2 linked regions of the Homo sapiens genome follow. The protein of the gene in region 1 interacts with the protein of each later gene in a biochemical or structural test. Each region holds a gene or a part of one and is shown on either strand. Other genes may lie near its edges.

Region 1 (3,580 bases):
TTCTGAGAGGCACATGAGAGCTTAGACTGGCAGAAAAGGGGGGTCGTGTCCACTTTCATGTCTGCCCTTTTGGCTCACTGCAGATAGTTCCCTGTGATCCCAGATGAGGGCCAGAATCAGTTCTAAGCCTAGGCCTTTGGGAAAACTTAGTTTGGGAGTCTTTGTCCTTAAAAGCCTATCTGAGTTCAAACCCTTGTTTTTCTGCTTTAAAGCCATGAGATCTTGGGCAAGTCACAGCCTTGATTTCTTCATCCGTAAAAGTGGTAATAGTTCCTCTGTTTATCACCTGATTTAATTTTGGTAAAGCACTTTATGAGCTGACACAGTAAATGTGTATCTTTGTGGTTAAGAATTTATACCCTCCAAATTATGCGTCTGGTGCCTTGGTTGAAAGTATTCTCACTTCATGGTTGCTGTATTACAGGTACGGTATTCTCACCAAAATCATTTCTCTTTGTAATTATGATACTGATTTTAATGCCGCACATTTGCATACTATATGCTTGTTACAGTGATCCCCACAGTAACTCATGAAGCAGCCACTCATTGTACAAATGAACGTCTCCATATAATAGTTTAGCTATTATACAGTACATGGCAGAAACACAATTCAAACTCAAGTTTATACGAATACTTTCAAGTCTCCTTACCTGAGAGCAGAAAGTGACATTTAAATTTAAAGGAGTTCCCAGCCTTTGTTTTCAGTGCAGTTTGTTTCATGGTGTAGGCAGAAGTCAGGGCTGTGTGATTGTGTGGCTGGGCTCTCTGGATTTGGCTCTTTGGGTTGCAGGAGTCATGGCTCATACGCTACATGAGGCACCAGCTCATGTAGGCACTGTCAGTTCCTATGTGCCCCACAGGAAAGCGCCCTTAACCACTGATGAGTGTTGATGTTTTTCTGCACTAGAAGGCACTATGTTGAACTATTAAACTTACCAGCACTTTCTTTTTCCACTCCATAGTTTCATTGTACTGACAACCTCAGCTGGCATCATGGACCATGAAGAAGCAAGACGAAAACACACAGGAGGGAAAATCCTGGGATTCTTTTTCTAGGGATGTAATACATATATTTACAAATAAAATGCCTCATGGACTCTGGTGCTTCCACTTGGTCGTTTTGAGCCTTTACAGCAGTGTAGCCACAGCTTCTGCGGCAGCATGCAGTTGCTTCGTTTATCGGTGAATGCGATTCCCTGAAGTGACTAATACAGCCAAGGGAAAAAGTTCTTATGAAACCAGTATGCCTAAGAAACAGTCACCCCTGCTGTCTGCCAAAACCAGGTATTTGACACTAAATATTTTAGTTGTATTTCAGTTTTTTTTTTTTTTTTTCTTTTTTGGAGACAGAGTCTGACTCTATTGCTCAGGCTGGAGTGCAGTGGCGCGATCTTGGCCCACTGCAACCTCCACCTCCCGGGTTCAAGTGATTGTCCTGTCTCAGCCGCCTGAGTAACTGGGATTACAAGTGTGTGTCGCCACATCCGGCTAATTTTTATATTTTAGTAGAGACAGGGTTTCGCCATGTTGCCCAGGCTGGTCTTGAGTTCTGGGCCTCAAGTGATCAGCCTACCTCGGCCTCCCGAAGTGCTGGGATTACAGCCACGAGCCATTACACCTGGCCTATATTTCAGTATTTTCTATTAGTTTTTGATGAATTTGTTTTGCCTGGCTAGGATTATTCTGTAGATAGGATTTTAGATCTGGCTTTTGTCACTGACTGCTGTAATAAATACTTGCTAGGAATTTTTTTTTTTTTTTTTTTTTTTTTAAGACAAAGTCGCTCTGTCACACAGGCTGGAGTGCAGTGGCATGATCTTGGCTCACTGCACCTCCGCTTCCCAGATTCAAGTAGTTCTCGTGCCTCAGCCTCCTGAGTAGCTGGGATTACAGGTGTGTGCCACCATGTCTGGCTGATTTTTGTATTTTTAGTAGAGGTGGGGTTTCACCATGTTGGCCAGGCTGGTCTCGAACTCCTGATCTCAAGTGATCTGCCTGCCTTGGTCTCCCAAAGTGCTGGGATTACAGGTGTGACCACCACGCCCTGCCTTAAGAATTGTTCCAAGAGAATCTGGTGCCACTTGCAGGTGCCCATTGAAGTGCAATGGGCACTGTTGATCACTGAGGAGGTAGTGGGTGCTGACCCGGTGCTGGGGCCTGTCCCCTAGTCTCTGCTTTGCCCTTGGCTAGCTAGGTGGTGTGCCAAGTGGGGAGAGAAGCTACCTTATTAAGGGGCATGGATCAGCTTCCTGAAAGGAGGGCCTGCCTCTGTAAGATATGGGAAGTCGCTGAGAATGTTACAGAACGGCCCTAGAGATGGGGCAGATAACGGCCCCCATTTGTGAGAAGTGAGTTGGGAGGCATGTTTGGGGCCTCTGATGTTTGGGAGGCTGTGGGTAATTAACATGAGTTTTGGGGTCCAGCAGCAGAATTCAGGTTTCCTCTTCCACTCAGTAACCTCAGCATCCGTATCTGTAATGGGAATGATACAAAACCTATCCCCAAGTTGAGGGAAAAATGAGATTGTGTAAAGCGCACTTGGCACATGACAGTCACAAGCATGGGGACAGTGAGTCCAGAAGGATTTTCTTATGCCAGCATTGTAAGCCCTAGGATCACAGGGCTCTGGCTTGTTTAACCATCGTGTCTCTGGTCCCTAGCCTGCAAACCTGGTGTGTAGGGATGCCTCAGTCGCTTACATGTTGATTGAGTGAATCGTCGGTTTCTTTCTGGACACTGACTTCAAAAATAAAATAGGATATGAAAATGGCTCCATTTGTTGTCACCATTTTGTGGGGATCCTATGTCCTTTGAAGTGGTCAGGAGTGGGAGAAACGTGACAGGGGAAGAAGGAGTGGTGTGGCTGATGGATTTAACATGTGTTCTTTTATGTTGGCAAGGAAGCGGATGACCTTACCCCTTGTTCCTCAGATCCTGTAAATGGCTTTATAACATGACCCAGGGCTGCTTGGTGTGGGACTAGACCCCAGGGTTTGAGGGTCTGAAGACAATTTAGGTTCGTGCTGGCAGGATGTCTTGGCTCAGAGACAAGTATTTCTGTGGGGTGATCCCAGCATCCTCCCAGCATACTGCTGCTGTTGCTAGGCAGAGACCCCGGAGTGGGGAGAGGGTGATAGCATCTGGATCATCCATTCCTACCTAGGTGGTTTTGGCTCATAGTAAAAGGGACCCAGCACCTATCCGCTGCTCAGCCTCGGAGCTGCAGGTGTCAGGGATATGATGCACTGTCCAAAAAGACATGCAAAACTTAACACCCCTGCATTTTCATGGAGAGACCCCGTGGAGCCTCTGACCAGAGGCTGAAAGAAATGTGTCATTCAAAAGACCAGGGAACCACTGCCAAGGACCCCTACATTCAGCAACACATCTATACTCGTGCCTGCCACGTGTCCTCACTTAGAGGCTATTGTCTCACCTCAGGGTCAGGAGTGCCAGGTGAAAGAGCACACAGGTCTCTGGGCAAGGCAGAGTTTGAAGCTAGGTCTGGACCAACGTCTGAGAGGATGACTTCACCCCAGGCGAGGAAGTTCACTTTGAGCTCCTGGCCAGGGAGAAAGCA
Region 2 (3,810 bases), on another chromosome or scaffold:
ACGAGCACAGGTTACTTCCACAATAAAAAATTTCACGGTGGGGAACAAAAATAGGTAATTTTTACAAACAAGGAGCCGAGAGCAGCAGCTTCCCAAGGCCGTCCTCCAAAGGGAGGCAGCCCAGCTCTGCAGGTGCCCACACGGACGGGGTGGCAGTGCCATCCACAACAGGCCAGACCAGCTTGGCCATGCTGCCAAGTCTTCATGGCCAACCTCTCTGTGCCTCCACTGTCCTTCGGCCCCCACAGCAGCCTCTGAAGTGTCTTGGGTGATCCCCTTGGGCACTCCTCGGGGAGTGTGGCTGATGTAGAAGGCCAGATGTGAGGCTGTAGGAATAGGAGGGCCCACGGGATGGGACTTGGGCCGGCAGCTGCCTCAAGACGCAGGCATGGACTTACTCTGCAACCATTGCTCACGCCTCAGCTTCATTTTCTCCTTCTTGGGCAAAACGGTCTTGGCCTCTGCACCTGAGGAAAGAGAACACGGGAGTGAGCAAAACGTGTCCAGGTGGCACTCCCATGACCTGAGAATGGGCTGGGGCGGGTCCTGACTGCAGAGCTGCCACAGTCACTGCAACTGGTCTGGCCTGTGCCAGCCTCTCAGACTCCCGGCTCTGGACAGCACCAGGGGCACCTGCAGCATGCCTCGGCCCGGCCTCAGGAGGCTCTCTCAGCAGCGTCCCCCCGCAGTGATGGCCTGGCCACTCACCCCAGCCTGCCCCGGAAAGCAGGTGTCCCAACAAGGAGGCCTCCTCCCCACTCATGCCCCGAATGACTGTCAGGGCAGTCATTGCAGTGAAGCCATGCAGGAATGCCCGACGGCTCATGAAGGGGGCCACGAACAGGACAGAGGCCCTTAGGGGGACATCCCCAAGATCCTGTGTGGTCACGTCAGGCCCAGCGACGTACGTGCTCCCTGCCCCCTGCCAGGCCCGACAATGTGCTCGGTGACCAGAGGCTTCATCCCTGGACCCCACAAAGCGGCCCTCTCAGGGAGCCTCCAAAAGTGAACTCCACAGGTGCCCCTGTGCTTGGTCCACGCGGAGCCCAGCCACCTGCCCGGTGGGCGGGGAAAGGAGGCTCATTTGCTGGGGGGACAGGGGCAGGGGTGGGATGAGCCTGCAGGGCCGTGCAGGTGGGGACAGGTGGAGAGGGCACTGGGTGCTGCGTCTCTGACTCCAGTTTGCTCTGAAACAGAGTGGACTCAAGGGCACCCCCATTTCCTCGGCCTTAACTGATTTCCCGAGACGGTTCAGCCTCGGCTGCATTCTCCCCAGAACACATCTCCCAGTATCTCTTTTAATTCATGCAGACCTTCCTGGCTTGTCCAACAAATCCACCATGTCTAATGAAAAACAAAGCAGAAGCAAGCCCTGCCTGGAGAAAGGCAGTCGCTGCGCTCTGCATTTCAGACTTCACTTCAGGAGCCGGTGTGAAACCTCCAAGGCCCAGGGCTCCCGCAGGATTTAATCCCCTCCCACAGCTTCCTGGTGTGCCTGGGTTGACCTACTTTCCTCCATAGCATCCCAACCTCTCCCTCCCGACCACAAAGGGGAGGGGCTGATTTTGCAGCTTTTCTGTAGTTTTGAAATTGTTTCAAAAGAAAAATGAATCTAAGACCAGTGGAAACTGACCCGAACAGTGACCTGTGTTGTGTTGGAATGAAGAAAACGAGGCCTGGGCGCAGGCCAGGTCAGGAACACAGCACAGTGATCCTTCCCGGCTCTGGCCCCAGGGAGCTCCCCAGCCCCATTGCCATGGCACCAGGACAACAGGAACCAAACACGCTGCTCCTGCAGGAGGAGAGGGCTTGGAATGCTGCAGCTGGAGCAGAGGCCGCCTGGAACTGCTGGCGGCGGCCCCACGACCCCCAGCTCCCGCCGCTTTCCGGGCCCAAGGCGCCCTTGCTGAAGTGCTCCGGCACAGGTTCACGCCTGCTCCCCCTTCTAGCCTCTGGATGGGCTGACGGGTGTTCACTGAGATCCAGTCGGTGCCGCGGGCTACGGAGGGGGCTCGCCCTGTGGGTCCTGATTCCCTCTCCCCCGCAGGCCCAAGGCCACATGGACAGGGCAGGTGGGCGCACCCCACCCTGTGGTGGGGACAGTGTGAAGTCCGCTCGAGCTGCTCCGGTTTCTAAACTTACCTACGACAAGGCCAGCACACCACAGCTCTCGCCGGTGCTGCGGAAGCACAGGAGCGTCCCGTGGGTGCAGCAGAAATGCCAGCTTGGAGGAGGGCCGGGCTGGGAGTGCAGATGCTGGGCCTCAAGCAAGGGTGTCGGGAGCTGCTACTGTCCTGGGCCTCGCCCCAAACCCAGATCCCAGCAGCACCAGCACTACAGCCCCAGTGGCTATGGGGAGGGGAAGGTCACCAAACACGTCTGATTAGTGACAAAGTGACGGCAGCAGGGGCCACACCTGAGGCAGGTCATCCGCCGAGCCCGAGCTCCTCACACAGGGCCTGAAGTCCGAGTGGGCACCAGGAATACCAAGCCAGAGCTGACAGTAAAAACGACTTCATACAATCGCCGGCCAGCCGAGCTGAGGCTACAGAAGGGTGCACACTCAGAAGGGCAGAGGCGGCTGCGACCTCGGCTTCCCGCTCTAGGCAGACAGGCTTCTTCCTCTGTGCCCTGTCTGCTTCACATCCTAGGCCACCTGCTGCACGGGCGGCTCACACACTGCCACTCCTTCTGGCCCGCTCAGTCCACAGCTCAAAGGTGTCAGGAGACGGGCAAGTCCCCATTAAACTGAACCTCACAGAACCCCAGCCAGTGGCTGAGGCAAGGCTAGACGAGGTGCTCATACCCTCATTCCCCACAAAACCGAGACAGGACCCCCCCAAGACAGAGCCCAGGCCTCCCTGTGGGGGAACATGCTGCAGGTGCCATCCACTCCCCCTCACACTCGGTGGAACCCTCTGGGGCCACCTGTTGCTACTGGCAGTGAACAAGCCCAAAGGGTGAAAGACAAGGCCGCAGGGCATGAGGTGGCTCCTGCGATCTGGGTCCTGGGACCCGGTGGTATCCAGGGTGCTCCTGGCTGCCACAGCGCCTGTATCTGAGCTGGACTGCAAGGCACAGGGCAGATGGATGGTGGAGATGAAGAGGAGGAGGATGAGGAGAAGCCGTGCCCTTGCCTGAGTCTTCAGGAGCCCAGGATGCAGCTGCCACGGAGCGATCTGCATAGAGGCACCGGGCTCACGAGCAGCGTGTGGGGACTGACCGTGTGGGACAGCCCCTCTGGCCCAGTGGGAGGCACTCTGAGGAGGACTCAAGGGCCGTTCAAGGAACAGCCCCTCTAACCCTTGACTCTGGAAGACCCCGCCTCAGCCCTGCCCTTGGGGAGTGACTAGAAACCTGCCCTGAGCTGACTCATCACAGAGCTCTGGGGGTGGCTCTGGTCCCTGGAACGCCGGCCGGCCCGGCAAAAACCTGCAGCATGAGCTGAATGGCCCCGCACAGAGAGAGGGATGGGTGCACGCAGGTACAGGCTGCCTAAAAACCCTGACAAGAAAAGGGAAGGTGAGACGCTGCCGCGCAGGAGCCAGGGCCCGTGCTCTGGAGCTGCAATTCCAGGTACACTGGGCAAGGCAACCGCCTCGCCAGAACCACAGCCTTCCCAGCTGCCACGGTGCTGCCTGGGCTCTTGCGCTCTAACAAAGGGGCCCCGGGAACAGACGCGGTAAACCAGCCTCAGTGGAGGAAGCCACACATGGCAGCTACACAGCACGCCTGTGCCGCAGGCAACTCACCTGGTCCCCAGCCCTCACCAGGTCAGCAGACACAGAACCAGGCTCACCAGAGTTGGGC

The links.
Region 2: the proteins of RPS15A (region 1) and SLX9 are reported together in a solved structure, tested with the Homo sapiens proteins (one study listed by BioGRID).

What each region holds. Positions count from the first base shown.
Region 1 is NC_000016.10:18,780,485-18,784,064, reverse strand, and holds the end of RPS15A (small ribosomal subunit protein uS8), read left to right. Parts: intron 1-962; coding exon 963-1,056; 3' UTR 1,057-2,770; downstream 2,771-3,580.
Region 2 is NC_000021.9:44,956,757-44,960,566, reverse strand, and holds part of SLX9 (ribosome biogenesis protein SLX9 homolog), read right to left. Parts: intron 1,870-3,810; exon of another isoform or gene 1,634-1,869; intron 468-1,633; coding exon 399-467; intron 1-398. UniProt on the Homo sapiens protein: May be involved in ribosome biogenesis.